Linked DNA regions of Homo sapiens: regions 2, 3 and 4 are each linked to region 1. Evidence: fine-mapped expression QTL. A gene starts in region 1. Each other region holds a variant in brackets. All regions are shown on one strand. Distances are between the middles of the regions. Region 1 holds the start of HIPK2 (homeodomain interacting protein kinase 2). Region 2 has its middle 25 kb from the start of TBXAS1. Region 3 overlaps HIPK2 (homeodomain interacting protein kinase 2). Region 4 overlaps HIPK2 (homeodomain interacting protein kinase 2).

Region 1 (7,616 bases):
GGGTGCACAGCGCAGGAACAATGAAGAGGGCACACGGACAAGATGGAGGGAAACTGAGGGCTGAAAGAGGCCACCGCGGAGGTCACCTGAGACAGGGAAGGAAGGCTGGCAAATAAAAACAGTTCATGAGACTTTTGAGATCCATGATTATTCTTAAACCGTAACACCCTACACACCTGCAGTTCTTTATCTGGCGTAAGGAACTGGAAGAACAATGTAGCAGGAACGGGGAGAGCCAAGTCTCAGCCTCGGGGGCATGGCCTACCTTCCATATGGATTTAAAATGAAAGGAGCAGGAGGAGAACAGTGCAGTTCCCAAGATGGCTTTCCACAAAGTTGACAAAATACACCCCAACTCACATACCCGGTCCCTAGTAACAGGGAAACCAGCCGTTTACTATAGTTCTGAATTCAATGCCAAGTTCCTTCTCTCAACTCACCGGGAGTGTCCAGCAGAGGGAGTCTCAAGGAGGTACTTAATAAAGAGAAAATTGTTTCATTTTAACACTCTAGACAGTGGGAGCATTGACTGTAGCCCCCTCCTGTAGACGCAGATGAACAATGAACGCCCGACATGGGTTCTCCCGCATGTTCACATGTCCACCGGCATGTTCTATTCTGCGTGGTGGAGTGATCAGAAATTTCGTTTTGTTTTGTCGAATGGTTAAATGGACCTTGTGTTCTTCAGAATCAAAGAGGAAAGCCCCTGGAATAACATCTCTCTGTTGCCTTCTAAACAGCCCCTTTGTTTCTAAGAGAGTCTGAAAAAAAAATATTTACAGTCTATAGGTTATTTACAGCCTCGTTATCCAGGGCCTGACTGGTAACTTTATTCCGGCCAGAAACCTAATTCATTTGGAGCCCTGAAACTAATAACAGATTTTCTTTTAAGTTTTTTTTTTTTTAATCAGCCTCTTATAACAGAGATAAAACTATTAATGCCTTCCCTGTCTCACTGGCCACAACTGTTCTCCGGATTTACAGGAGGATTACATTCCCCCCTCGTGCCCTCCTCTGTGCCACACAAACCCTGTCCCCTCTCATTTGCGATTTCATCCACAGAATATCTGAACAAAACCGAAAGAAAGCCGGGGGACCCACGCTAAAAGTATGTGAAGGCTGCGATTTCAATGATTTCATGAGACAAACATTTACACGATGAAACGACTGAAAAATCAGACACACTTGGGTTTAAAATTTCTCCTACTACAAGCACACAAAAACACATCGAAGTGTAAAAACTTAGTTGATTCTGGGTTGCTTTCTGGCTGGAAGCTGACAGAACGGACTGAAGAGAAACGAAAGACAGTGTGCGAGGCAGACCTACTGCTTTTCTGCCTTGCGTTCTTTTCTTTCTTGCTAAAGGCAGTCAAATGGGGAAAAATACCCCGATGCCAGGTGAAGGTGCACAACACAGATCGACCCAGACCGAGCCAGAAAAACGTCTCCGCCGCTCCCCCGGCTGGAAAACCCAAAGTCCACGTCCCCTTCCACACGCTAATGAGGGGAGATTTTCGCCTATTTCATTGTTCTGCCTGGCTCTGACATGGACTTTTCATCTCTCTCCTCTCTCCCCACCTAGCCCCGTGCATTCCGATTCCACAGCCCCCCCAAAATCGGAGGCTCGCGGAGAATAAAGGAGCGTGGGGTGGGCGCGGAAAGAAATGGGAAGGGGCGCGGGGCGGAGAGCGAAGTGGAAAGGAGGTGCTCCGAAAGGTAATGTGGGGGGGCGGTGGAAGCTAAGCCGCATCACCTTCATTTATCGCAAATAAATAAAAAGCACAGTCACCGGTCCGCCTTCCCCGGCGTCCCTGCCCTCCCCGGGCAGCCGCCCACCCTCGCACACGCCCCCTCCCCTCCTGCGCCCCCGGCCCCTCTCCCCGCCCTGGAAGCAAGACCCTGCCGGCGCCGGGTCCCGGTCATCTTCCGGGCGAGGGAGGGGGTCGCGGCCCCCTCGGGCCCCGGGTGGGGGCTGGGGCAGGCGCCGGGGGCTGCGGGCGCGGGGCCGCGGGCAGAACAAAGCTGCGGGGGCCGCGGAGGGCGGCGGGCGCGGGGTCGGCGGGGCCGGGCGCCCCTTACCTTCGTACACGGGGGCCATCGGGGCCGGGGTGTCCGCGGTTCATGGCAACGGGGACGGGAAAGCGGCGCGCGAGCTCGGCCCCCCCAGCCTCAGTCGGAATCTGCCATCTTGAGCCTGTGTCTCCGCTCTCGGCGCAGCCGAGGCCGCCCGCGCCCGCATCACCGCCTCCCGTGGCCGGCGCCGGGGGAGGGGGCCGGGCGCGCCGCCGCCGCCGCCGCCGCCGCTGCCGCCCGGGCCCGGCGCGGGGGGCTCGGGGCTCGGGGCTCGGGGCGGCCGGGCGGGCGGAGCGGCCGAGGCCGAGGCGCCGAGCGGCCGCGGCCCCCGAGCGGATCCGCGGAGGGGCGGGAGCCGGGGGCAGCGCGCGGCCAGGGCCGGCGGGGCTCAGCTCAGCATGGCTGGGCGCGGGGGCTCCGCAAAAGTTGCTGGCGGAGGGGGGCGGCGGGCGGGGGCGGGGGCGGGGCGCGGGGCCGGGAGAGCCACAGGGAGTCCGCGCGCAATCGAGCGCCGATGGCACGGATGCGAGGCGGGGAAGGCCGAACCGAAGGGCAGAGCCGCGCCGGCGGCCCGAGGGGACCGCGCTGGGAGGGGCTGCCGCGCAGCGCGGGGGGACTGGGCGCAGGGCGGGCCCCGGGTAGTGGGTGAGAGGGCCGGCCTGGACCCGGCGGGCGCACGGCTCCGAGCCCAGCGCAGCCGAGCCGGTCTGCAGAGGGGCCCCCAGAACTTTGTGTGTGTGTGTGCACGCGCGCGCGTGTGTGCCCAGGTGCGAGGGTTCGCGCGTGTGCTGGCGGGGAGGGAACCGACCCGAAAGAGAGCCCCACGCTGGCAAAGTGGCTCGCCCATCTCACAGCCGGTTGGCGCTCGCGGAGGTAGGAGTGGAATGAATGAATGAAGGAGTGGGCGCGCGCCGTGCTCCGGAGGAGGGCGGGTGAGTGGAGGAGCTTCGGAAAGCCACACGAGGTCAGAGGCACCGAAGCCCTGCCGTGCACGCCGCGGAAATGCAGCCCCCGGGGTGGTCGCTGGGTTCCTGCCGGAGTCTGGCTTCCACGCCACCCTGATCTTCTCCTCCTCGCGTCTACACTGTCCCGAGGGCCGCCACTCCATCACTTGAATGGGAGCTCACAACTCTCTGGGTCCTCGCTTTTCTCAGCGCTCTCTCCTATCAGGGCTTCCGCTAAACACTCTCCAGACTCTCCCCAGCCGGGAGCCTCTCCAGGTTTGCTTCTCCAGCTGCCTCCCGGATGCTTGGATAGGATGCCCTGCCATCCCCTCCAACTTAGGAAGACTTGTTGAGTCTCCTCTTAGGCACTGTTTTTAAAACTGTGGGTCGTGACACAGTAATAGATCATAAAATAAATGCAGCGGAAGGCAACCAGCTTTCAAAAAGAACGAAATGGAATCCAATAGAAAATATTAGAGTCCATTGCCCTTAGTAAGGGCAACTATTGTTTCATAAACCTTTTGTTTCGATTATAGGTACTGGACAAGTGTACTGGACCATGATGTCAATTTTATTTCCGTCTGTGAATCGTGGGTTTAAAAAAGTTGAAAAGCTATCTGTGTAAAATAATGATCTCTAACACTGTATAACTTTCTTAAAAACAACCTCGTGATTTTCTCACTACTTCTTATCCTTTCCGGTCTCCATCCTCCGTTCCCATCCTTCAGTCCTTCCCAAAAAAGGCAAGCTCTTTCACACTTTTTTAGTGGTACATCACGACACCTTCCTCTGTGTGATCTTGTACTCTGCGGTCTTCCTTGCCCCCATAATCAATGCTACACTTCCTATCCCTTCTCTTAACCTAATGCCATTCACGTTTGCAGAATCCTAGACTACTGTTGCTAAAAGGACCTCAGAGGTCATCTGGGCCAGCCCTGCCCTTTTAGAGTTGAAGAAATGGAGTCCAGAGAAGTAAAATCTGTTGCCCAATGTCACACAGTATTGAAGCTTAGGAATAGGTCTCGTGGCTCCCACTCTAGTGTTTTTTGCTCCACACCGGTCATTTATCTCCTTCCCTTCTATCCTCCCTGCAATCTTTAACTTTAGTCTTGGCCCAGGTCATCCTAAATATTGCCATCTTCATAATACGTGGTTCTGGCCATGCCACGCTCCTGGCTAACATCCTCTAAGGACTCAACCTCTGCAGGTGGGGCTGAGTGCCTTGGCTTTTCATCAAGGCAGGCGAGTCCTGACTTAGCTTTCTAAGGACATGAGTTCAGCAAGTCACTGCTTCTCTAGCCAAACTGGTTTACTTGTAGCCCAGTGCCAGCTTCACCCATCTCTGTCACTGTGCCTTTGCCCAAGCGGTCACTTTCCCACCCACTTTCCCAGAGGGGTACCTTCTCCATCTTCTCTCTTTAAGCAGATTCTACCTGTGCCTGGCTCACCTCCTCCACAAAACAGCCCGAGATAGCGTGGGAGTAAGTCAGACCTAGGTTCAAATCCTAGCTCTTCCACTTAACTATGTGATCTTGGTCAAAATGCTTAACCTCTCTGAGCCTCAGTGTCTGTATTTTGATTATGAGAAGGAGAACAATAGTAATGTTCTCCTTTTGCATCTGTAAATCTCTATCATAGCCTTCACCACACAGGTATGTAACTCCCTGTTAATACATACCCTACATGCATGTCTCTCTGCCCCTTTCTAGTGCTGGCCATTAGAACTTGCTGCCATAATGGCAGTGTAGCTACTTATGTCTGTGGAGCACATGAAATGTGGCTAGTATGACTGAGGAACTGAATTTTTAATTTTAATAACCATGGGTGGTTAGTGGCTACCATTTTGGACAAGGTGTCTCTAGACTGTAAGCTCAGTAAGGACAGAAACCATGTTTTTCTTGTTTTGGATTGTATGTCCAATAACTGCATTGCCTAACGCATGGTGAGTACTGCACACATATTTGTTGAATGGATGATAGCTGCAATTTGTTGCATGCTCCCTTGTGTCCAGCACAACACTACAAACTCGATAAAAGGCATTTCATATAGTCCTCATCACAGCCTCTGAGGCTGGGTTAGATTAGAGAGAGAGTTTTATATAGAGGGCAGACACATAGTAGGGGTTCAATAAAAGTTATTATTATTCTAACTCCTCCCTCTGACCAGCCCCACTGACTTTTGTCTCATCTTTCCTTAGGCTCACAGAACATTTCCTGCCTGTTGCTCACACTCTGTTGTCCACAGCATACCCGCACCCTAGATGGCTGACTCTTGTCTTCTGTGTAGGTACCCTGTGTTCATAACTGGATTGGCAGCGTCTTGGAGCAAGGCCCTGCTTTATAGGACTGCCCCTGAATTCAGCACTGACCAGTGTTCAGTAACTGCCTCTAAGTCCATCCCAGCTGCTGTCTAGCAGTGAGTGATTCTAGGCAGTCTTAAAATGAATATCACTTGTGTCAACCGAAAACATTTTACAGGTAGTCTCCTCCCCATAAGAAGGGAACAATCTTGGGCAAGGAAATAGAGTCCCATGGAAGGGGAACAAGATGGAGCCATACAGACAGAGGTCCACCTTCTCTTCAGACCACCATGACTGAAGCTGTATCCATGAGATGCAAAACATGCATTCAATTGAGCTAGCGAAGTTCGTATGATATAACGGAAAAATATTCTTGAAATGAGCTTAGATTTTCCTTCATGAATTGGCAGACTGAGTATACTAATTGTCTCCTTTCCTTCCGGTGACTGCAGTCAAGTGGCAGCAAGGTATAAACCTAACAGTGAAATGTCACTGAAGGAGAGCATGGGAGCTGGGAGGAGAGAGGATCTGTGACAGAACCTGGGGAGTACCAGTATTTGAGACATGGGAAGAGGAAAAAGAGCTCCCCATGGACAAGAGGGCAGAGAAGTTGGAGGACAGCCAGGACGGGGGATTCCTCAACATCCCAGCAAGGTCAACAGTGCTGCATGCTATTGAGAGGCCCACGTCAGATGAAAGCAGAAAAGCAGCTGGGTGCTGTGGCTCACGCCTGTAATCCCAGCACTTTGGGAGGCTGAGGCAGGCAGATCACCTGAGGTCAAGAGTTTGAGACCAGCCTGGCCAACATGATGAAACTCCATCTCTACTAAAAACACAAAAAAAATTAGCCAGACGTGGCGGTGGGCACCTGTAATCCCAGCTACTTGGGAGGCTGAGATAGGATAATCGCTTGAACCCAGGAGGCAGAGGTTGCAGTGAGCCGAGTTCTAGTGCCATTGCACTCTAGCCTAGGCAACAAGAGCTAAATTCCATCTCAAAAAAAAAAAAAAAAAAAAAAAGGCAGAAAGGCATCAATTGGATTTAGCAACAAGAGTTGCATTAGTGACTTTGGTGAAACTAGTTTGGAGGGAAATACAGGTTTCTTAAATTCTACCTGAATATGTGTCCTGTTTTATGGGTGGAGATAGTAGAAGGATGGGGAGGGCTAAGGAGGTACCAGAAAAGAGCACCAGAGATTGCTCCAAGCAGAGAGGGCCTTACCAGTCATGGGCCTGAGACAATGAGAGGGGTCTGGGAGCTGTCCCATTTGGCTAGAGATAGTGTGCATTGTATTTTATTTATTTAATAAGCACATTAGCAGTCAGTGTTCTAAGGAGTTTAATCAATCATTTAAAAAAATCACTTTTTTTTTTTTTTAACAGTACATGGAACTCTAGGTTGCCAAAATACCATTTAACTTCAGGGTGCATTGAAGAACAATAATAAAGGCAAGAAAACTGGAAAGGATTTAGTAACCATTTATACCAGTTACCTCTCCTTAATTTGCCTTTCTACAAAATGGTGCAAGTCATATCTTTCTCAGGAGTTGGTAGAGTGAACATGGGGGAGCTTTGACCTCATTTCAAGTTCATTTTGCTTACAGGACATGGAACAAAGGGTCTTTTTTTTTTCATGTATGCCTATAGTTGTGAAACTGCACAACATCACAATATCTTCAAGGCCACAGGATAGAGATAACCCTCTTTTTGGTGTATGCATTTAGGTGTGTATGTCTCTCTTACTCTCAGGGTATTCTTAGCATGATGTCTGTGTGGCTTGTATCTTATTCTCACTTGGTGTGTGTTGCTCTTATTTTCCTGACAGCTCTTTATTTTCCATGTGTGAGCCTGTGCCTGTGGTTTATCTCTGGAGGATGTGCCTGAGGGAGGTAGGTCACTATCTCAAGTTCTGTCTTTTGATATCACACCTCTCTTTTGGTCTCTTGCTGTATCTCTATTTTCCTCTCTTTCTGACTGTGTGTCTAATTTTCTTTTTCTCTGTATCTTTCTATCTTTTCCACACATTCTTTATTTCTTCTTCCTCTCCCTTTATTTTAATTCTGTTTCTTAACAAGTCATAATAGAGACCTATTTTTGTTTGGATTATTCTTAAGAAATTACCTTGTCTTTCTGCTTTAAACCTTTGATCGGTTTCAATGATACAGTTTGTAACAGAGTAGTATTTAATAACAAAACTCTTTAACTGAAAGCTTCAGTAACAAGACATTACACTCACAGAGAATTTAAAAGAGTAGACATTTCATTCAAATGAGGAACAATAGAGCTGTGGCTTTAAGGGCA
Region 2 (7,920 bases), 25 kb after region 1:
TTCTATCTGAGAGTGTTTGTGACCTTCTCATATTTCCTCATGTCCTCTGGAATCCTGACCTAAATTTTTAGTCTTTTCCTATCAGTTATCAATTGCTTACTTGTTGTTTTCATGTTTAAAAACTCATTCAACTCCATCCAAACTTTCTTCTTCTTCTTACAAAATAGTTTATAGCTAACTATATTTCCTTACTCTCATTTGTTCCTTCCCTGTATTCAGTGTCTCCCCATCAATATCTTTTATTACTCCAGAATAATTTCAGAAACAGTTTGAGACAGTTTTAAAAATAATGCCGCTGGCATTTTACTAGGGATGACATTAACCTTATCAGTTAGTTTGAGGGAAATCAGTATCTTTGCAATATCAAAACTCTTCCTAATCAAGGACAGACCACATTTTTCCATTTATGTGTTTTTAAATAAAATAATGTTTTCTTTGTATTGGCTTTTTAACATTATTGTTAAATTCCCCTTCAACATTTAACTGTTTCACTACAATATGTCTAAATCTAGGTCTGTTTTTTATTAATTTGGGCTAACATATGATGAGCTTTGATCTACAAATGCAGGTCTTGCTTCAACTTAAAAATATTTTCTTTTCTAATATCTTTAAATAGCTCTTCTGTTCTTTTTTTCTCTCTCCTTCAAAACTAGATTTCTATCACCTGTCTTTCTATGTCTAGACCTTGTTTCTGATAGTTTTGATCTCTTTGTCCTTTTTTTTTCTTTTTTGTGAGGCAGGTTCTTGCTCTGTCACCCAGGCTGGTGTGCAGTGGCACAACTCAGCTCACTGCAACCTCTGCCTCCCAGGCTCAAACAATCCTTCTACCTCAGCCTCCCAAGTAGCTGGGACCACAGGCACTTGCTACCATGCCCAGCTAATCTTTGTCCTTTTCTTTTGCATTACAGAATACAGTCCTATGCTTAGCTTTCTTTTCACTGATTGAATTATCTTCCATTGCCAGTTGTAACCACTGTGGTTGCTAAGTTTATTTACAATTCTTCCATGTCATTATTATTATTATTTGATACAGAGTCTCCTTTTGTCACCCAGGCTAGAGTGCAGTGGCCTGATATCTGCTCTCTGCAACCTCTGCCTCCCAGGTTCAAGCGATTCTTCTGCCTCAGCCTCCCAAGTAGGTGGGACTACAGATGCACGCCACTGTGTCTGGCTAATTTTTGTATTTTTAGTAGAGATGGGGTTTTACCACATTGGCCAGGTTGGTCTCAAACTCCTGACCTCAGATGATCCACCCACCTTGGCCTCCCAAAGTGCTGGGATTACAGGTGTGAGCCACCACGTCCAGTCACATTATTTTCTTAACTGTGTCAACTCTCTCATATCACTTTGTTGGCTTATCTCATTCTTACCTTTTATTTCATGGAGTCTGAGATTTTTATCTGTCCCTCCATCAAATGTAGTTTAAATATTGTTTTAAGTGTTGTTCAAATGTATTTCCATTTTCTACAGTAACATTTTTTCTTTAAAATATTCAATTTTAACACTTCTTGAGTGCTACGTGTATCCATTTTCTCGTTACAGAATAGTTGCATAGGTTACACGTGATATAGTTTGGCTGCATCCCTAACCAAATCTCATCTTGAACTGTAGCTCCCATAATCCCTACATGTTGTTGGAGGGACCCAGTGGGAGGTCATTGAATCATGGGGGTGTGTTTTTTCCATTCTGTTCTCGTGATAGTGAATAAGTCTCTAGAGATCTGATGGTTTTATAAAGGCCAGTTCCCGGCTGTTCGCAGTGGCTCATGCCTGTAATTCCAGCACTTTGGGAGGCTGAAGTGGGTAGATTACCTGAGGTTAGGAGTTCAAGACCAACCTGGCCAACATGGTGAAGCCCCATGTCTGCTGAAAATACAAAAATTAGCTGGGTGTGGTGGCGTGTGCCTGTAATCACAGCTACTCCAGAGGCTGAGGCAGGAGAATCACTTGAACCTAGGAGGTGGAGTTGCAGTGAGCTGAGATCACTCCACTGCACTCCAGTCTGGGTGACAGAGTGAGACTTGGTCTCAAAAGAAAAGAAGAAGAAGAAGAGGAAGAGGAAGAAGAAAGAAGAAAGAAGAAGGTGGTGGCAGTTCCCCTGCACATGCTCTCTTGCCTGCTGCCATGTAAGATGTGCTCCTCCTTTGCCCTCTGCCATGATTGTGATGCCTCCCCAGCCATGTGGAACTGTGAGTCCAATAAACCTCTTTTTCTTTACAAATTACCCAGTCTCTGGTATTTCTTCATAGCAGTATGAAAATGAACTAAACAGTAAATTGGTACTGGTAAAGTGGGGTACTGCTGTAAATATACCTGAAAATGTGGAAGTGACTTTGGAACTGGGTAACAGACAGAGGTTGGAACAGTTTGGAAGGCTCAGACGAAGACAGGAAAATATGAGAAAGTTTGGAACTTCCTAGAGACTTGTTGAATGGCTTTGACTAAAATGCTGATAGTGATATGGACAATAAAGTACAGGCTGAGGTGGTCTCAGACGGAGATGAGGAACTTGTTGGGAACTGGAGCAAAGGTGACTCTTGTTATGCTTTGGCAAATAGACTGGCAGCATTTTGCCCCTGCCCTAGAGATCTGTGGAACTTTGAACTTGAGAGAGACGATTTAGGGTATGTGGTGGAAGAAATTTCTAAGCAGAAAAGTATTCAAGAGGAAGCAGAGCATGAAAGTTTGGAAAATTTTCAGCCTGATGATGCAATAGAAAAGAAAAACCCATTTTCTGGAGAGAAATTCAAGCCTGCTGCAGAAATTTGCATAAGTAAGGAGCCCAATGTTAGTCACCAAGACAATGGGGAAAATGTCTCCAGGGTATGTCAGAGACCTTTGCAGCAGCCCCTCCCCTCACAGGCCCAGAGGTCTAGGGGGAAAAAATGGTTTCCTGGGCCAGGCCCAGGCCCCCACTGTGTGCAGCCTAGGAACTTGGTGCTGTGAGTCCCAGCCACTCCAGCTGTGGCTAAAAGGGGCCAAGGTACCACTTGGACTTGTGGCTTCAGAGGGTGCAAGTCCCAAATCTTAGCAGCTTTTACATGGTTTGAGCCTGCAGGTGCAAAAAAGTCAAGAATTGAGGTTGGGGAACCTCCACTTAGATTTCAGAGGATGAATGGAAATGTCTGGATGTCCAGGTGGAAGTTTGCTGCAGGAGCAGAGCTCTCATGGAGAACCTCTGCTAGGGCAGTGCAGAAAAGAAATGTGGGTTTGGAACCCCCACATGGAGTCCCCTCTAGGGCACTGCCTAGTGGAGCTGTGAGAAGAAGGCCACCATCCTCCAGACCCCAGAATGGTAGATCCACTGACAGCCTGCACCATACACCAGGAAAAGCTGCAGACACTCAACTGGGAAAGCAGCCAGAAGGGGGGCTATACCCAGCAAAGCCACAGAGGCAGAGCTGCCCAGGGCTGTGGGAGCCCAAGCTTGTGTCAGCATGCCCTGGATGTGAGACATGGAGTAAAAGGAGATCATTTTGTAACTTTAAGGTTTAATGATTGCCCTATTGGATTTCAGACTTGGATGGGGCCTGTAGCTCCTTTGTTTTATGGCCAATTTCTCCCATTTGAAATGGATGTATTTACCCAATGCCTGTATCCCCATTGTATCTAGGAAATAACTAACTTGCCTTTGATTTTACAGGCTCATAGGCAGAAGAGATTTGCCTTGTCTCAGATGAAACTTAGGACTTGGACTTTTGGGTTAATGCTGGAATAAGTTAAGACTTTGTGGGACTGTTGGGAAGGCATGATTGTGTTTTAAAATGTGAGGAAATGAGATGTGGGAGGGGCCAGGGGCAGAATTATATGGTTTGGCTGTGTCCCCACCCAAATCTCATCTTGAATTGTAGCTCCTGTGTGTCATGGGAGGGACACAGTGGGAGGTAATTGAAACATGGGGGTGGGTTTTTCCTGTGCTATTTTCATGATAGTAAGTCTCATGAGATATGATGGTTCTATAAACGGCAGTTCCCCTACATATACTCACTTGCCTGCCACCATGTAAGACATGCCTTTGCTCCTCCTTTGCTTTCCACCATAATTGTGAGGCCTCCCACCCATGTGAAACTGTGAGTCCATTAAACCTCTTTTTCTTTATAAGTTACTCAGTCTTGGTATTTCTTCATAGCAGTATGAAAATGGACTAATACAACATGTTTGTTTTTCCCTCTTAATATATTTTGGAATGAGGAAAGATCTCTCTTGACTATGCATTCCCCCAAAAGTAATGTGAATGGATTTCACAGCTTACCTGAAGTCAATTAGAATAATCCTTTTCCATCTTGAATTGGAGGATGGAATGAGATAAGTTCAGTGATCCATCAGGCAGATGGGTGTAGCAGGGATCCTGGTGGTGCTGGGGGTGTCCTAACAGCAATCCTGATCACAGCCATCAGTGGCGCTAGCCAGGTGCCAGGCCTGATTTGGAACATTGCATGTGTGTTTCCTTGTTTAATCCTCACAATCACTCTATGAGGTATATATATTATCATCATTCCCACTACATAGATGAGGAAACTGAGGGCTCAGTTAAGAAAGTTATCCAAGCTAATAATTAGCAGAATAAGCATTCAAACCCAGACTATCTGACTCCAGAATTCATGGTCTTAACTTTTATGTTATATTGCCTCACTTGCTCCTGGGCCTGGGGCTCCAGTGCCACAGCCCCCAAGGTAGGAGTGCTTCCTGTTCCTCAGTGGGCTCAACCTGAGGGTTCAGT[G/A]GGATGGACCTTCCACTTTCATCCCATGACACACAACTCTTTGAAGTGAGTTGAATTGTGAGTCTTCCTTCTAGTTCCTCCTTGTCTTAATATCTAGAATGAAAGTCTAGAACACATCCCTAGATTTTCTTTCTCTCTCTTTCCTTCCTTCTTTCCTTCCCTCCCTCCCTCCCTCCCTTCTTTTTCTCTTTCTTTCTTTCTTTCTTTCTTTCTTTCTTTCTTTCTTTCTTTCTTTCTTTCTCTCTCTCTCTCTCTCTTTCTTTCTTTCTTTCTTTCTTTCTTGTCTTTCTTTCTTTCTTCTTTTTTTTTTTTGAAACAGCCTGCTGCCCAGGCTGGAGTGCAGTGGCTCGATCTCAGCTCACTGCAACCTCTGCCTCTGGGTTCAAGCAATTCTCCTGCTTCAGCCTCCCGAGTAGCTGGGACTACAGGTGTGCACCACCATGCTTAGCAAATTTTTGCTTTTTTTTTTTTTTTTTTTGAGATGGAGTCTCGCTCTTTCACCCAGGCCAGACTGCAGTGGCGCTCTCTTGGCTCACTGCAAGCTCCGCCTCCTGGGTTCACACCATTCTCCTGCCTCAGCCTCCCAAGTAGCTGGGACTACAGGCGCCCGCCACCACGCCTGGCTAATTTTTTTTTGTATTTTTAGTAGAGACGGGGTTTCACCATGTTGACCAGACTGGTCTTGAACTCCTGACCTCAAGTGATCCACCTGCCTCAGCCTCCCAAAATGCTGGGATTACAGGCATGAGCCACTGTGCCTGGCCTATGTTATTTTATTTTATTTTATTTTATTTTATTTTATTTTAGAGACAGGGTCTCACTCTGTCACTCAGTCTGGAGTGCAGTGGCACAATCTTGGCTCACTGCAATCTCCACTTCCTGGATTCAAGTGATTCTCATGCCTCAGCCTCTCGAGTAACTGGGATTACAGGCGCGCTCTACCATACCCAGCTAATTTTTGTATTTTTAGTAGAGACAGGGTTTTGCCATGTTGCCCAGGCTGGTCTTGAACTCCTGACCTCAAGTGACCCAGCCGTCTTGGCCTCCCAAAGTGCTGGGATTGCAGGCATGAGCCACCGTGCCTGGCCTGTTTTTATTTTGGTATTTTTAGGAGTTTCTAGGAGCTGGGGATTGAACACCTATGCTCTGTTCCCCTTTTTCCAGGTCTCTCCCTCTGCCCTGTCTCCCTCTCTGTCTCCTGCTTCCTGAAACACTCTTCTGCCTTGCCTGCCATTCTGCTTCATTATCTCCAGGGTCTCTGGCTGTGCCCTCCCCATCCTCCCTCTCATCTGTCTGCACCTTGATTCCCCCTTGGCTCCATTCTCAGTTGTTCTTTTCTGTCTCCGCCCTCCTTGGTGACCTCACACACTCTAAAGCTTTCACCGCCATCCACACTGGTGTGTGGTCCCTGGCCTCAGCCCAGATGTCTCCCAAACTTCCTTTGAACAGTGATTGTCTGCCGAATGCTTCTACCTAGGGGGTTCACAAACTGGACAGCACACACTCCCATATGGAACACTGCACTGGTCACCTTTTCTCATTGAATGTGCCTTCCACTTGCTGGGGAGTCATCCTGGATTCCTGCCTCTGGTCTGGCCACTCTGCAGTCCAACTGCCCTCCCTGCTGTGGGCAGATGATCTCTCCCTTCCTCGAGTCCTCCAAAGCCTCCAGCGCCAGCTCTTCCATGTGGTCTCAGAGGTCATCAGGGATTTGATCACTTTTCACCTCATTGAACTTTGCTCTTTGCTGGATTCTGTTTCCTGCTCTGCCACCCAGGCTGGAGTGCAGTGGCACGATCATAGCTCACTGTATCCTTGAATTCCTGGGCTCAAGTGATCCTCCAGCCTCAGCCTCCTCCAGCCTCAGCCTCCTGAGCAGCTGTGATTACAGAGGTGTCCCACCACACCTAGTTAATTTTTTTTTTTTTTAGATGGAGTCTCGCTCTGTCACCAGGCTGGAGTGTAGTGGCGCAATCTCGGCTCACTGCAACCTCCGCCTCCCGGGTTCAAGTGATTCTCCTGCCTCAGCCTCCCAAGTAGCTGGGACTACAGGTGCCCACCATCATGCCCTGCTAATTTTTTGTATTTTTAGTAGAGACAGGGTTTCACCATGTTGGCCAGGATGGTCTCGATCTCTTGACTTCGTGATCCACCCACCTCAGCCTCCCAAAGTGCTGGGATTACAGGCGTGAGCCACCGCGCTCAGCCAATTTTTTTCTTTTTTTTAAAGACAGGGTCTTGTTGTGTTGCCCAGGCTGGTCTCAAACTCTTGGCCTCAAGCGATCCTCGTGCCTAAACCTCCCATGTATTTTCCCAGCTTTCTGCACAGCTTGGAGTTCCCTGTGTTTATTTTCCATGGCCTTGCCCCTGTCTGCTGGTAAATGGCCTTCTGGGGAGGGGAATAATCTCTGCTCTTTAGCATTTGCTGACATCTGTGGTGTAAATATTCCCATCACCGCCAATCTCAAACTACTAACATGACTTCATTGAATGTGGAGTTGGGTAGAGATGTTCAATAGCCACCATTAGACAGTATTTCCACCTTACAGATACAATAGACCTAAAACAAACCCTCAGCCAGGTGTGGTAGCTTATACCTGTAATCCCAGTATTTTGGGAGGCTGAGGCAGGTGGATTGCTTGAGCCCAGGAGATTGAGACCAGCCTAGGCAACATGGCAAAATCCCATCTCTACAAAAAAAAAAAATGCAAAAATTAGCCAGATGTGGTGGTGCATGCCTGTAGTCCCAGATACTTGGGAGGCTGAGGTAGGAGAATCACTTGAGCCTGGGAGGCAGAGATTGTGGTGAGCTGAGATCACACCACTGCCCTCCAGCTTGGGTGACAGAGTGAGACCCTGTCTCAAAAAAACAAAAACAAAACCCTCAAGGGCATAGATAATAGTAAATAGTAGTAAAATAATTAGGGAGTGATATATTTTTAGCATTTATTATCTTTAGTATTTTGTATTTTAGTATTTATAACCTTTATTTTTAATATAATTTATTTAATTGTAAACTTACATAATTTAATTATTAATAATGACCACATGTAACAGCTTGCTGGCAAAATTCCTGAACACTTAGCGAGCAGCCCTCCTGAGCTGGTTTGAGCTAGCTCCAGCGTGCTCCTGGCTCCCCTTCCTAGAGATCCCTCATCTCCACCGACATCTGGTCAATACTTATCCTTCCCTTAAGTCAGC
Region 3 (7,920 bases), 83 kb before region 1:
ACTGGCTACAGAGAGGGTGTCAGGCCCTCCCCGAGAGCCTGCTTAATGCCAAGGTCAAAGGTATAGAGCTAGCTCTGTATACCCTGCACTATGTTCCCACATCCTAGACTTTCACAGCAATCCTACTAAGGGAGCAGGACAGGTTCTTTTCCTGTGTACAGAGAGGGGTGACCGTGGCTCCCTGACATGAAGTAGGTTTCTATTGTCATCTGTAGAATTTGGGGTGGGGGAATGGTTAGATCCCACATGATAGTAATTGCATTGTTACTATCTCCCAATTGAGAAAATACAAAATACCAAAAAGTCACAGTAGGCAAGTCACATTTTCCAATTTATTAATCACAATAGCATCTATATGCATCAGAAAAAAAAACAGTTATGTGCTTACGTCCCAAACATAATTTCGTCAGTACCCATTATGTGGGTGGAGCATATGCAGATTCTCACACATTCGTGATAAATGCCCATCCTAGGCAGGGAAGAAGTACGGCTCTAAATTTCAGGAGCCAAGGGCTTGCTTAAGGCCACATGCCCAGCTTGGGGCTAGAAGCCAGGTCGTTTGGTTCCTATGCCAATATTTTTTCCATTACCTCCAACAGGTTTGGTGACTTGATTCTGCTGTCATGAAGAGATGGGAACACGACATTAGAACAGGAGAGAGCCACTGCAGGAAGGGGCTGGCATAATGACAACAGTTCCTAACCCCAAGAGGAACAGAGACCAACCACTGTGAGAAGATGCAAAGCTTTTGGAGGCAGAAAGACTCCAAAGGCTCTATCACTTAGTGATTATAGGATTTGGGGCAAGTTACTTAACCTCCTTGAGCTTGTTTCCTCATCTACAGAATGGAAAAAATGCCTTGTGAAGAACAGAGAAAATGCATGTAAAATTCCTTGCATATAACAGGCACTTAATAAATGGCAGCTAGAGTTAGAATTTTAACTCAATGAACACAGATACAAGGAGCCTTTTAACTGGAGCAAAGAGAATTAAACTCTAAGTAGAGCACCTAAGTGCATGTCTGTGTTTGAACACATTTCATCACATTTATAATAACCCTGAGGGATTAGGAAGGGGTTCAGTTGGAGAGAGAGCAGCACTTGGTAGAAGAAACGTGTGTCTGGGGGTCAGACACACCTGGTTCAAATCCCAGCAGCACTACTTCTAGCCTTGTGCCACTTGGCAGTTGGTTTCCTCAGACTCAATTTTCTCATCCACTAAATGGGGAGTTGTCCCAAAGATTAAATGTAGGCCTCTGGCCTTTAGCAGATGCTTATTAAAATGCCAGTGCCATTCATTCCCCTTCGTCCTCTACTCTATATCAGAAGGTATGGGATGCTATGATGTCTTCCTGTTAAATTTTTGTCCAGAAAAAAAAAAAAAACATTTTAAGTATGGTGTTGAAATGGGTAAGTTTTAGTCACTTGGGAAATGTATACACACATGATATCTTTATTCTCCAATAATGTGTGACTCAGGTAAACATTTCTAAAAACATGTGCACTTATCAGATACTAAAATGCAGTATCCCGCAGGCAGCAGGCACTCAATAAATGCTTGCTGCAAACTGAACACATGAAAGGAGTGATAATCCAACTCTAAAAACAAGCCACTTCCACATGCATAAAGAGTGCAGTCTTTCCTTGAAGTGACTGATTCTAAACCGAGAAGAAACTTGGAACTGCAAAAGCAGAAATATACTTTTTTTCCTATTCAATAAATCATCAAGAAAGGTTAAGTCTGAAGGGTCTGCATTACTCAGTACAGAAGGTTTCTCAGATTTCTCTTTTGACCTGGCTGTAATAGATGCACTTCGAATTAGCAAAAATTCATCTGCTCTTTCTGACTCATGAAATAAACGGATGAACTTTAATCCATCCTCCTGTAACTCTCACAGTCTGCCATGCTCCACTCTGCCAGAGACACGTGTGTCCTTACACGCTCCACAAGACACCAGATATGTATCAACAGAGCAAGGTTCTGTCACCTAGCCCAGTGATAGATACCCATTACCAACACAAAGATACCTCAGATCGATGATCATGACGTATCCCAGCAACACACGGCTCAGAGCTCCGACAGGTGTCTCCTCCCAAGGCAGGACCAAAGGCACGGGGCACTGTCATGCTGAGGGGTCATTCCTGCCCCAGCCCAGATCCACCTCTGGTCTCTGGAACCACGTGGGGAGTCTGTTGTGGTCTGCCTGGGTCTCAAAGCGTTCTCGCCACCTGCCAAGGTTCACTGATTGAGACAAGCCCACCATTCCCTGGTGGCCTGATCATTCCTGTGCGCATGGTCCATGGTCACATAAAAACAGAGATGGGGCACTCAGCTATGATAAATGGGGGAGGTAGTGTCTGCTTTGGTTTAGTGGAAAGATGTCAGTTGAACAGAGAAGGTGGAGGATGAGGGCTGGAAGGTGCAGAGTGAATGGGCAGGAGGACAAGGCTCTGCCTGTTAACCCCAGGACAGGTGACTGGCAACCATTTATGGGGCAAGGCAATGGCCTAACAGTTGCATGCAGACATTACAACAGAAAAGGAACAGTCAAACAAGGAATATCCTGCAAAACTGCTGAACCTGTGATATTTATCTGCCTCAGAAAACTGTTAAAACACAGAAATCCACAGGCTCGCCCCCTATTATATGGCCTGCTAATGTTTACTGGCATTTTTCCTAGCTAGCTGCTCCTAAACGTGCTCTTGCCTCTGGCTGCGAGGTTCGCCATTTTGTCAAGAAAACAAAACGCCTGTCTGTAGCTCAGTGCACGGACTTCACTCACAAACACCATCTCCATGAAAAAGTAATAAAAGTGAAATATAGTTTATTAATATTCATACTGTCTCCCACTGCCAGCAGCCATAAGTGTTCCATCATTAGAGGAGCAGGCTGCTTGCGGGCCGATTCCCAGGGAGCCGTGGTCCTCGTCATCAAAGTGACCATCACAGTGGGTGGCTCAGAACGGAGGGTTAGGCCTCACCGGAACTGCACGACTACTGTGTGGCCCGGGGCTGCCTTTCACCACCCGCTAGTTAGACAGCCTTGGGGGCTCGCCACTCCATCTCTTGGGGCCACCATGAAATGGGAAATGGGGCTGAGAACGCCAACCTGATTGCCTGACATCAATGCTACATGGGAAGGAAACCTCTGTACTTGAGAATAGAAGTAGATATATTTAAGCTTGAGGACATTAAAAAGTTATTCAAGAGGCCAGGGGAAAGCAAAGAATCAGAACAAATCAGAACTGCTCTACAGAATGGTTTACAGGACAAACAGTTCATTAAAACCCATATAAACTTCCAAGAGTAGAAAGAACACACACTCAAGATGAAAATTTAGGAAAGGAGGATTTACAATAGTTCCAAAATATAATCTGCCAAAGATGTTTTGGACAAATTACCGAAAACTATGGAAGAAGCATGACTCAGGGATGAAATGGCTACAAAACCACAGTTCAGTGAAATCCTGTCCCACAGCTTAACTGTGATCAGAGTGATTTCTGTCTAATTTTCTGCACTGGACTCTCCTTGGGGGAAGGGCCTAGTTCTGATTCATCATAGCACACTGTCTTGCTCCTAATAGGTGTCCAATAAATGTTTCCTGAATTAAGGGGGGAAGAAAAGTATTAACAAATCAGGATTTGAGGAAGAACAGACATTCTAATCAATGTTTAAGACTTCGGAGAACTGGCCAGAGGGAGAAAAAGTGTGCTGCAGATGAACAGAAGGAAACCAAGGCAAAGAGAATGTACCCAGAAAGCCATTGATAACGTGATGTTTGTTGAAGGTCAGTGATTTTGTTGATAGTAGGGTGGGGGATGCAACTACGTAAATACACAGTGGTAAGATGCAGATTTCTTTCTTATATAAAGGCCTGTGACAATGAAATATAATTATCCATGTGGCAAACCAGGAATGGGAAGAGAAAAAAAGCAGTCTTGGCTGGGCAGGGTGGCTCACATCTATAATCCCAGCGCTTTGGGAGGTGGAGACAGGAGGATCACTTGAGGCCAGGAGTTTGAGACAAGTCTGGGCATCATAGTGAGACCCCCCGCCACCAATCCCTACAAAAAATTTTAAAAACTAGAAAGGCACAGTGACACACACCTGTAGCCCCAGCTACTGGGGAGGCTGAGGGAGGGGGATGGCTTAAGGTCAGGAGTTTGAGGTTGCAGTGAGCTGCGAGTGCACCACTATACTTTAGCCAGGGTGACTGAATGAGACCCTGCCTCAAAAAAAAAAAGGTAGAAAAAGAAAAATGCAGTCTTTTCTGATTAGGGAAGATAGTTGATGATAAAACAAAACCAAACCCAGATACTTTTCACTTCCTCTAAATGGCAGCACAAAGAAATGGACATAAAAGTAAAGGGGGCGGGGTGAAAAGAGTAAAG[G/C]GGGAAGAGTCACACAGGCTGAAAGGAACACTCACATCTTCCTGGCGTCAACACTCAGAGGTGACACGTTTCAGAGCATTGCTTCCTCAGAGAGATGAATGTTTCTGTGCATCCCCACAGGCCAGGCACTGCATGTGTGGATTTCATCTAATCCTTAAAACTTCTATAAGACAGCATTATGATCCCCAGTTTAGGGGTCAGGAAGCCGGGATGCAGAAAGTTAAGTAACTTGCCAAGGACACACGAGGGTAGTCAGTTGCAGAAATGGAATTTTATTTAGGCTTACCATCTCTAAAGCCAACTATACCACAGACTTTAGAATTATTGAAATATCATAGACAAAATACTCCCCCTTTCGCCTCCTCCCCGACCCCCTGCCAGGGATCAGTCCTTCTTGTAAGACAGAGAGAGCACCCAGAGGCAGCTGGCCTGGCTTTACCTCCTGCCTCGCTGTGCACACTACACCTGTTCTTCAGATAACACCACCACTTCCATCAGGGCAACGCCGAGCTCTGCTTACACACAGGTGCCCAGGGGCCTCAGAGAGAGCTGCAGTAAAGCTGCTCCTTTTCTCTCCGAGTGAAGGAGAAAACAAAATATTTACCTTACTGTTTCAGCCTACAGCCGGAAAAGTATAAATCATCTTCGCAAATCTGCTTTTGTCAGGATTTATAAAATCAGCTCCTATGGCGACGACACAAACACAGCTCTCAAAGATACTCTCATTCTACCTGGCATCTCTAACAATGCTAGGTCCCACGTACAAATAAACCAAAAAGGGCCTGAATCTCAGTTCCTGGTAAAAATCTCATCCCATTCCTACTTAGCCTAAAGGTTTTTTTTTTTCTGTTTAAAAAATAATTAAACAGAAAATTAATTTTTTTCCCTTTTCTGTTTAAAAAATAATTTATTGAGGTGAATCACATGCGTAAAATTAGTCTTTTTAAAGTGAACAACTCAGTGGCATTTAGTACATTCATCACTCATAACGTTGTACAAACCATCACGTCTATCTAGTTCCAAAATATTTTCATCATTTGGAAGTAAAATCCCTTATCTATTAAGAATTTATCCTATTATCCCCTCCTCCCAGCCACCAATATGCATTCTGTCTTAATGGAATTTTTTTTTTTTTTTTTTTTTTTTGAGACGGAGTCTCGCTCTGTCGCCCAGACTGGAGTGCATTGGCACGATCTTGGCTCACTGCAGCCTCCGCCTCCTAGGCTCAAGTGATTCTCATGCCTCAGCCTCCTGAGGATTACAGGTGCACGCCACCACGCCTGGCTAGTTTTTTGTATTTTTAAGTAGAGACAAGGTTTCGTTATGTTGGCCAGGCTGGTCTTGAACTCCTGGCCTCAAGTGATCTGTCCATCTTGGCCTCCCAAAGCGCTGGAGTTACAGGCATGAGCTACTGCACCTAGCCATCTTAATGGATTTTTCTATGCTGGGTATTTCATATAAAGAGTATCATACGATACGTGTATGCCTTCTTTCACTTAGCATGATGTTTTGGGTGTATGTTCATGTTGTAGCATTTATCAGTACATTTTTCCTTTTCGTGGCGAAATAATATTCCATTGTATGTCTATACCACCATTTGCATATACGTTCATCCACTGATGGACATTTGGGCTGCTTCCACCATTTGGCTGTTGTAAACAGTGTTGCTATGAACATGCATGTACAAGTATTTGTTCGAGTCCTTGTTTGCACTTCTTTTGGGTGTATACCTAGGAATGGAATTGCAGCAATCATATGGCAATTCTATGCTTACGTTTTTGACGAACTGCCAAACTGTTTTCTACAGTGGCTGTGCCATTTTACATTCGTACCAGCGATGTAAGAGCGTTCCTGAAAAAGTTATTTTAAACATAATTTATGAAACAAAAATCCTGAAATGATTTTCATTAACACTGACCTTTGTAGCTCATGAAAGGATTGGGCGATTTATATAACAGCTTTCCTTCAACAGGCCCTGTGAAATCTCTAATCCTTACCACCCACCCCGCCACCATCAAGTACAGGGAATATGTTAATCACCAGCACAGACACCCAGAAAGGTTCCAGTCTAGCTCCTTGACCAGGACTAACACCCAGGACACAGCTATAGAACAAAAGTTCCAAACCTCAAAAGTTCCATCAAATGCAAGGAGGCATATATTATACCACAGATTTTACATGCAGCAAGAAGTTACAGCAGAGAAGAGCAGAGTGCCCAAAGAAAGATGAATAGAGAAATGAAACCTGAGTAGGACCTTGAAGGACGGGTATAATAAATAATAAAAACGACGACCCACGCAGAGCACACAGCACCACAGCTGCCACGATCCGAACAACCTGCTTGACTGAGGGCGGCCCAGCCGGCTGCCGACGCACAGTAGCTTGGGCAGCAAGAACCGTGAGACAGAGATACTGGAGAGTGGCACCCGCCATCTCTCCCACCAGCCTGGGGCAGTATCTCATTTCCCCAGGGCCGCAGGGAGTACATCTCCTGAAAAAGATCTCCCTTCCTACTTGCTAGGAAAGGCGATGTTGTCATGTTTCATTAGAAACATTCAATTTCTATGGCAAAACAAACTCAGCAATCCTCACGCTGTGCAGGCGAAATGGAAAGTATTTAAGTGTGGTGAGTCTCGCTTGCTAGATGGAAAGGAGGATAATGTGAATATGTATAGGCTCCCTCCCCGCCTCCTCTTTATCACCTGGGGAAGAGGACCATGCTTAGGCCACATGTACCTGCCATCCACAGCCTCCAACCCAGCAAGAAGTTACGTTTTGTCCAGGAGAAGTCTCACTAAGGAGCAGGAGAGTGTAAGCCCCTCAGGTACACCCTGCTATCAGGAGGCAAGGCTGGGCCTGCAGCTGGGGAGGGTGGAGCTGGCATAGGTCCCTCTGCACCAGGCACAAGGTGGCCTTTCCCATGGCAGAACCCCTCACCCTTCACCTTTGGTGATCTTAGGAGATGACTGCTGTCCAGCTGGCATGGCTGTCACCTGCATCCCTCCCATTGACATTCTCAGGGTCAATTCCAGGCTGCCCCAGGTCTGAATCCCTCACAGCACTGGGTCACAATCTGCGCACGCCAGGGGTGTGCGGAGTGAATGCACAGATGTGCCCTCCCGGGAGGCACACCCTGGAAAACATGCATGCTTCCTGTGGCTGCACACTATGCCACCTTTGTCTGGGGCACTGAATCATTAATTCTGGAGCAGGGGCAGTGCTGCTCTGTGCAGTGGTGTCAGCATCATCATTGCCTCGGACAGAATGGAGCAGTGATGCAGATATACGACGTCTGTGCTAACCAAGCATGAGGTTCCCAATGGGACAGGAAAACAAATCCTCAGTGGCGCTCTCTAGAGGGCAGGACACTTGCCTGTGCGAGGTGGGGGGAGGGGAGGGCTGACGTGAGACTGCTGAAATCAGACGTGTTTTCAAGGGTGCCTGAGGCCAGGCCTTTCTAGAGGAGCTGGGGGTTTCCTGCTGTGCACACCACAGCCTGGGGACCCTCAACACGCCTGCTTTCTGCAAGG
Region 4 (7,920 bases), 38 kb before region 1:
ATGAATTCATTTCCCTTTTCCATCCTGGCTCAAACTACATGGCTCATATAGTATTCCTACCGAGGTCTTACCTTGCTAAAGATTCTTCTCTTCTAAGACTTGCTGAATCCAAACAAAAAGGTGGGAGGACGTATGAGGATACATTCTAAGGGGCAACTTGAAATATAGGAAAGGATACAAGAATAATAAGCCCGTTGATTTCTTGTTTCCCAGCTTTTACACCCACAAAATCCTAAGAATTATTAAGGGATGGGGAATGTCTATGGAAGTGAAGTCAGTGACCCAGGAATCTGTTTTCCATACCTACTCATGCCATGAAATCCCATTAAGTCACCAGAAATCCCCTGGAGGATAAGCTCTAACACCAGTTAGTGAAAGAATAAAAATCACTGCAATTTGCTCATTACCCCAGCTTTTCACCCAAACCATGGCTGAAAATCGCTAGAAGCCCACCTTTCTCCTGGACTGCAGGAAAATGAGCTGCCAAGGGCCCTGCACATCCGGCCTCTGCTACACCAGGAGTTTGGGGCCGGAAGCTCCCCAGTGCCCCATTGGTCCTGGGCCGCATGAAGTGATTCAGAGCTACAGGGTCACGACTAAGCCATAAAATAAGAAACAAAGAACAAAATGAGCCTTTTCTTAGTTGCAAGCTAAAATTTGGGGAAAGTGATTAGAAAAAAGAAAAACAGTGCGGTTGCTGGGAAGGCCAATTTCCTTTTACTCACAGGAAATCTTTTCTGCTGATTTAAGAGCAGAGCCACACCTGCTCACAGACCAAATGTCAGCACAGGAGGAAGCTGCACCTTGAGTTATTCAACCAGTGACAAAAGCATTAAAACAATTCTGAGCTAAGGAAATTCAACCTGGGCTCCAGGGCCCAGACCCGATCCATCTGCACATGAGTTAGAGAAAGGATTCGAGTTTATGGAAAGAAAGGGCATAGGAAAGGCACAGGCTCAATTCAAGACTTAGCAGTCCTGTTTTATACATGTTCCCTGAGTACAGACCAGCAGATCTGGGCTCACAAACAAGACCCAAGACCTCCATTCTAAAAGGAATGAGAACTCCACCGGGTCAACTGACAAAACTGGAATGTAAACAGTGGCTCAGATAAAAATATTGTATCAGTGTTACATTCTCTTCAGTTGATCTCTGTACCATGTATGAGAGCGCCCTATTCTTGGGAAACACACGCTGAAGCATCGGGGGTAACGCGGAGCTGTCCAGAGGAGCTCTGTGTGCTGCTGAAGAGGTTCTGTAGTCTCTATTGTCTGATGCAGCCACACATGTGTCTATGCAGCCCTTGAAAATGTGGCTGGTGTGACTGAGGAACTGAATGTAAAGTTTTGTTTAGTTTTAATTTAAATAGCTACTTGTGGCTAGTAGCTACCATTCTGGATGGTGCCGGAATAAAGCACCATGATATTTGTAACTTACCCTCGAGTCATATAACGATCATTCGTGTGTCTGTATATACAAACACACCACAGGCACACACACAACAACCAAAAGAGCAACAGTGAGAGACAGCACATTCAAGGGCATGACAAAACAAATGGGGTGAAGTGATAACAGGAAAATCTGGATATGGGGTATAGGGGAGGGGAATCTGGGTATAGGGGTAGTCTTTGTACTATTTTTATTTTTGCAATTTTTTAGTAACTTGGAAACTATTTCCAAATAAAATGTTTTTAAATGTATAAGGATGAACATTTATTTATTAATCACTGAAATCTACCAGGCAAAAAGAGGAACTCATTTCCGGGCAGGGAATGGAACCCAGGATGTCCAAGACATTGGCAAATTTTGAATGAATATTGTGGAGGCCACAGGACACTCCTCTCTGAACACTGCTCCTCCACACCCATGGCACAGTGCTTCTCCCACAGTGGCAGAATAAATGCCCTCGCCCAAGATAAATTTTCTGACTTCTTTCCATCTGACCTCTAGCCTGTCCATGAAGGACTTGGCTACAAAGGTAAGTTTCGGGCAAGTTTTGTTTTTGAAACAGGGTTTCACTATGTTGTCCAGGCTCAAACTCCTGGGATCAAATGATCCTCCTTGCCTTAGCCTCTCTATTTGCTGGGACCACAGGTATATGCCACCATCCCCAGCAGGGCAATTTTTAAAGTAACAGCTTTATGGACATAACAACTCACATACCATAAAGTTCACATTTTAAAAATGTACAGTTCAGGCCAGGTGCAGTGGCTCATGCCTGTAATCCCGCATTTTGGGAGGCTGAGGTGGGCAGATCACATGAGGCCAGGAGTTCAAGACCAGCCTGGCCAACATGACAAAACCTCATCTCTACTAAAAATACAAAAAATAGCAGGGTGTGGTGGCACATGCCTGTAATCCCAGCTACTCGGGAGGCTGAGGCAGGAGAATTGCTTGAACCCTGGAGGCGGAGGTTGCGGTGAGCCAAGATTGTACTGCTGCACTCCAGCCTGGGTGACAGAGTGAGACCCTCTCCAAAAAAAAAAAAAAGGTATAGTTCAGTGGTTTTGAACACAATTGTGTGACCATCACTGCTATCTAATTTCAAAATATTATCATCACTCTGATTATCAGAAACCCCATACCCATTAGCAGTCACTCCCCATTCCCCCTTCCCACAGCCCCTGGAAACCATGAATCTCTACTTTCTATCTCTGCGGACTTGCCTGTTCTAGACATTTCATATAAATGGTATCACACAATATGTATATGTCCATCTGGCTTCTTTTGCTTAACATAAAATTTTCAAGGTTTACTCATGTGGTAGCATGTATCAACATTCCATTCCCTTTTATTGCCAAATAATATTCAGTGGACTATTACTGCACACTTTGTGTATCCACTTGTCAGCTTATGGACATTTGGGCTGCTTCTCCTTTTCGCTGCGATGCAACCATGTGGACACGTGTTTTTATTCCTCTCGGGTACATACCTGGGAGTGGAACTGCCAGGTCAGGTGGCGACTCTATGTTTAACCTTTTGAGGACCTGACACTTGTTTTCCAAAGTGGCCTCCTGAAGTCCCCAGGAGTCATGCAAAGTCCCCCAGAGGTCCCAGGCAAAGCGCACAGAAGGCCCTTCTGCAGAGATGCTGCCCTTCTGTCCTTCGGTAAAATACCAGCCTAAATTCAAAGCAGGAGTCAGGGTTTGTTTGATTTGAGGTAAATAAATTAGAGAAGCTGTGACTCGCTCAGTGCCAGCAGCATGCTTAGCCTGGTATCGCCCCGGAGAAAGAGCCAGCACCTGGCATGGCAGACGAGGGTTGGCACAATGCATGCTTGCTTGCCAGATGAAGAGGCGCTCTGTGCAAAGTGCAGCTGCAGCAGGACGCAAACTGGTGCTCTCTCTACCGTCCCTCACCAGGGCAAAGCTGTCTGTGCTCCTGGTCAAAGCCTCGGAGGACTTATTTGCTGTCATCCACACACTGTGCTCCGGAAAGTGCCTGCTCAGAAACTGGCAGGGAGAAGACCCGGAGGGAGTGAGGACCATGAGAAATCAGAGAGCA[A/G]CTAGACAAGGAAGATATCAAAAGAGACGGGTCCTTCGAGGCCTGCACACCTGTTAGTCCTAATATATTTCAGAGCAAGGGATCAGACTGGTGCACACATGGGCTGAAGCCCAGGGAAGGAGCCAAGTCCACCACCAATGCAACTGGTGAGTCAGTATCAGGCATGTGTCCCCTCCAAGCTGGCAGTAAACAAACACTCACACTTCATGTTTGGGCACTGGACTAAATTACCAGGCAAAAGTACAAATTCCGGCCAGGCGCGGTGGCTCATGCCTATAATCCCAGCACTTTGAGAGGCTGAGATGGGCGGATCACTTGAGGTCAGGAGTTCAAGACCAGCCTGGCCAACATGGTGAAACCCCACCTCTACTAAAAATACGAAAATTAGCCGGACATGGTGGCAGGTGCCTGTCGTCCCAGCTACTCAGGAGGCTGAGGCAGGAGAACTGCTTGAACCCTGGAGGCAGAGGCTGCAGTGAGCTGAGATCGCGCCACTGCACTCCAGCCTGGGTGAGACTCTATCTCAAAAATACAAAGTACAAATTCCAAAGCTAGTTAAGCAAGCTTGGGGGTTGGTGAAGAGTTGGTGAGGAAAGGAGGATTTCTGCAGAGAAGAGCAGAAGTCCTGGAATGGCTGGCTCTCTCTTTCATTCCCTTCACTTTTCATCCATGTGTGCGCCCTGGGGAGACACTCGGTTTCATCTTAGAGTCACTGTGCTGAGCCTCATAGGCCTCTTCTTTCACTCTGGACCCCATCCTTCGTATCGTCCTGTCCTCTTGCAACATTTCACTTGTCCTTCACCTTTGCCCCCTCGGGACAAACTTTGTTGGCAGGCCTGGCATTATTTTTGTTTTTGAAGATATTGTATTTCAAAAGCAAACTGCTACATATTTAATAAAGAAAGCTCAACCACAGTTTGACGCGGTGGGGATGCAGAAGTGGCAGGCAGGTAGCTTGAGATCCTGAATATGTCCTACCAGTGCACAGCCTGTTCCCTCAGCCCCCATTAATCTCCACACTCTAGCCTGTCCCACCTTTGTTATTTCTCCAATTCCGTGAACGTTGATCAGTTCAGTATAGCTCTGAATTTTCACAGGTAACTCCTCCTGTCTCCTGTGCATTCATTTTCTCAGTCACTATTCAATAAATACTCAGTATGATCACCACCATTCACGTTTTGTTGTTTGTAATATGGTTCGTCTTTTGAAATCATAGATAAGTGGCACAGAACCTGGTATGATGAAAAATGTCAGAGAAAACAAAGATAAGAACGTGAACTTGATCTTTACATACACTCTCTCATCTAAGCCTCACGGCAACCCTGGGAGGTCATTATTATCATCCTCACCTTACAGAAGAAAGAGATCCAGAGAGACTGGCAGGATTCGCTCCCCCAAGGTCATGAGCTCGTAAAATCAGAGGACCTGAATTCAAACACATGTCAGTATGACCCTAATGCCTTTACATTTTCCATTAGGAATGTAAATGACAACATCTTTAAAAGTCATAAACCCTTACTCAGCCACGACATGGTTATAAATTGTAGAAAGAACAATGGAGTGGGAGTTAGAAAATTTGGCTTCAAGTCTGGCTTTGTGTTGATTTTGAGCAAGTCACTTAATATTTCTGAACACAGATTTCTTCTTCCATGAAGGAGGCCATGCTTACCAAACTGGGCTGAGTGTCCTGTGAGGTGCTAATATTTATTATGAAAAAAGAAGAAAAAAATGAGGTCAAAACAGTTTAAGAAATGCTGGGTTAAATCAAATAAAGCGGTTTTCTTTTTTGCAGGACTTCTCAGAGGCTTTAATATCGCAGTGCACACCGTGGATCTCCAAGAGGGATATACAATATGCTCTGAAGCCCAAATTTATTTACCAAAGGGAAACTTCTTTTTTTTTTCTCCATACAAAACACTTACTCTTTTTTGTCAGGATAGGAGATTGAAAAATAATGGATTGGATAATCCCCAAGGAATCTTTTAGCTCTAACAATGGGTAATTTTCTGATTTATCTTATCATTCCAAATGGACAGCAGATTTTCTGAGGGTAGAATGTGCTTTTCTATGAAATCAAGAAAATAGCAGCTAGGTAGGGGCATGCCAGAATGTTCAGAGAAGCAAAAGGAGCATGAAGACTCATCATAGACAGCTGTTCCTATAAAAGACTTGCACATCTAGGGGTATCTTCTCCCCTTTAAAATAAGTCAGCATCATCCAAATGCCATTGGGCTGGCTTTGTCTTCCAAAACAAATTTCCCGGGCATTAACAGAGACTATAAACTGTCTTGACTGACTTATGAGGAACAATCAATAACGTCTGTCCAGGACCCATCAAATCCATGTCTAAGGAAAGGCCAAGTCTTTAGGACAGAAACGTGGCATGGCAGTTTCACAAACTAGTGGAGATGGCTCTCTGGAGGACAGTCTAGGTGGGACTCCCAAGGCCTTCACTGCTTTGCAGGCACCTCTTCCCCAGGTGTGCAGGAAGAGACCCCAGCCAAAGAAAACCTAAGAGGCTTTGTTGGGGAGGAACAGGGGACCCTGCCGGACCCTGCAGGTTTCCCTTTCCCTACTGGCTGAAAGGGAGGGCTGCACACATCAGGGAGGAGAAATAGAGGAAGAAGATGATGGGCACAAAAGCAGAGGGGCAACAAAGTACAGATCACATCTTGGGGGCACAGGGTACAGTTCTCAGAATAGAGAAGAATGTCCAGGTCAAAGGTTTCCTAGAAAACTCCCTTCTCTTTAAAACAGACACATGATTTTCCTTGGGACATTTTTATATACAACTTACAACTGCCAGATCACTCTTGGAAAATCCGCTGCTCATCTTGGCAGTGGCAGTGGAAAGAAGCCAGTGTCCTTAGACATATCTCTTTGTGGGCCCCAGCCCCAACATGCAGGTGTCCATAGCACAGGACAGAGGACTCCATGCAGCCAAAAATCAGTGCAGTTACCCCCTAAGTCCTCCATCTAGAAAAAAATGAGACTTGGTAGTAGCCACTGCCCTGTGGATTCAGCCAGAGCCCATCTCTAGACCCCACCTATCCCCCTGCTGTTCCAAGTTCCAGACTGGGGCTCCAGGATCAAAATGGCTCAGGGCTTTGTGCTAAGAAGAGCTCTGAACAAGACATAAGGGGATGGTTTAAGACTCAGGATGCTGAGGATTAAGTGTCTGGGCAGTTAGTTCCAGAGGTCACCTAAAAGACTACAGGGTTCTGCGAGAGACCTGGAATGAGGAACTAACATTGATTGTATGCCTATTTAAAAGCCAGGTACAACATCCAGAGTATATAAAGAACTCTTACAACTCAATAATAAAAACACAACCTAATTTTTTAAATGAATGAAGAACTGAATATACATTTAGCCAGAGAAGACATACAAATGGTCAATATGCACAGGATGATCATTATTAATTATTAGGGAAATGCAAATCAAAAACACAATGGGATACCAAGAAAACTGAAAACATATGTCTACACAAAACCATGTCCACTAATGTTCACAGGAGGATTATTCATAACAGCCAAAAAGTGGAAACCACCTGCATGTCCATCAAGTGATTAACAGATAAGCAAAATGTGGTATATTCCTACCGTGAAACACTATTTGGCAATACAAAGCAATGAAGAACCGATACCTGCTACAACATGGATGAACCTCAAAAACATCATGCTAAGCAAAAGAAGCCAGACACAAAAGATCACACATTGTCTGATTCCATTTCAATGAAATGTCCAGGACAGGCAAACCCATAGAGACAGAAAATAGATTAGTGGTTGCCAGGGGCTAGAAGGAGAAGCGAATAGGGAGTGAGTTAACAGGAATGGGATTTCCTTTTGGGATGATGGAATGTTCTGGAATTGGACAGTGGTGCCTGATGTACAACTTAGTGAACAGGCTAAAAGCTGATGAGCTGTACACTTCAAAAAAGTGAACTTTCCGGTATGTGAGTTATATCTCAATAAAGCCATTTTAAAAATAGTCACAAAAGTAGATGCCTGATACATATTCTCACCCACCGGACCTGAAATACATATCATCATCCCATTTTACAGATGAGGAAACTTGAGGACTGGTGAAAAGCAGCTAATTGCCAAGAGGCCCGCTGCGAAGCCACGTGACGGACTTACGGCAAGTGGATTTTAACTAGGTTTGCTGACTCCGGAGGCCACGTTCTGCTCGCTTCACCACGCTGCTCCCTGCCAAGATGATAAGCTAACCAGCAACTGCAGAACGGTTCCTCTGGAAAAAAGATCACTCCCTGGACAAAGGATCACTGACCTACATAAAATGCTAGTGCTGGAAGTCACGTTAAGCGGCATCTCGCCAAATCCCTTCATTTCACAGATGAATAAGTAGAGTTTCAAGGCACTGTACTGACCTGTCCAACCAAAGCAGCAAGGCTGG

Evidence for each region. PIP is the estimated chance that this variant, and not a neighbour inherited with it, causes the effect.
Region 2: its variant is fine-mapped to the expression of HIPK2 in regulatory T cells (Schmiedel 2018, PIP 0.95).
Region 3: its variant is fine-mapped to the expression of HIPK2 in whole blood (TOPMed, PIP above 0.99).
Region 4: its variant is fine-mapped to the expression of HIPK2 in whole blood (TOPMed, PIP above 0.99).

What each region holds. Positions count from the first base shown.
Region 1 is chr7:139,775,526-139,783,141 of GRCh38, forward strand. It overlaps HIPK2 (homeodomain interacting protein kinase 2), which reads right to left and starts at 2,473. Exons shown (of 15, transcript NM_022740.5): 1 at 2,080-2,473. The coding sequence starts at 2,098. It also overlaps a transcript of TBXAS1 not described here. RefSeq lists silencers at 2,069-2,158, 2,589-2,818.
Region 2 is chr7:139,800,756-139,808,675 of GRCh38, forward strand. It overlaps a transcript of TBXAS1 not described here. Among named protein-coding and RNA genes, the nearest start is that of TBXAS1, 25 kb to the right of the region's middle. RefSeq lists an enhancer at 6,235-6,529 and a silencer at 7,801-7,920. The variant G/A (reference allele first, on the strand shown) is at 4,720.
Region 3 is chr7:139,692,352-139,700,271 of GRCh38, forward strand. All of the region lies in intron 2 of HIPK2 (homeodomain interacting protein kinase 2), which reads right to left. Among named protein-coding and RNA genes, the nearest start is that of HIPK2, 82 kb to the right of the region's middle. RefSeq lists an enhancer at 482-983. The variant G/C (reference allele first, on the strand shown) is at 4,391.
Region 4 is chr7:139,737,110-139,745,029 of GRCh38, forward strand. The region is part of intron 1 of HIPK2 (homeodomain interacting protein kinase 2); the gene reads right to left. Among named protein-coding and RNA genes, the nearest start is that of HIPK2, 37 kb to the right of the region's middle. The variant A/G (reference allele first, on the strand shown) is at 3,505.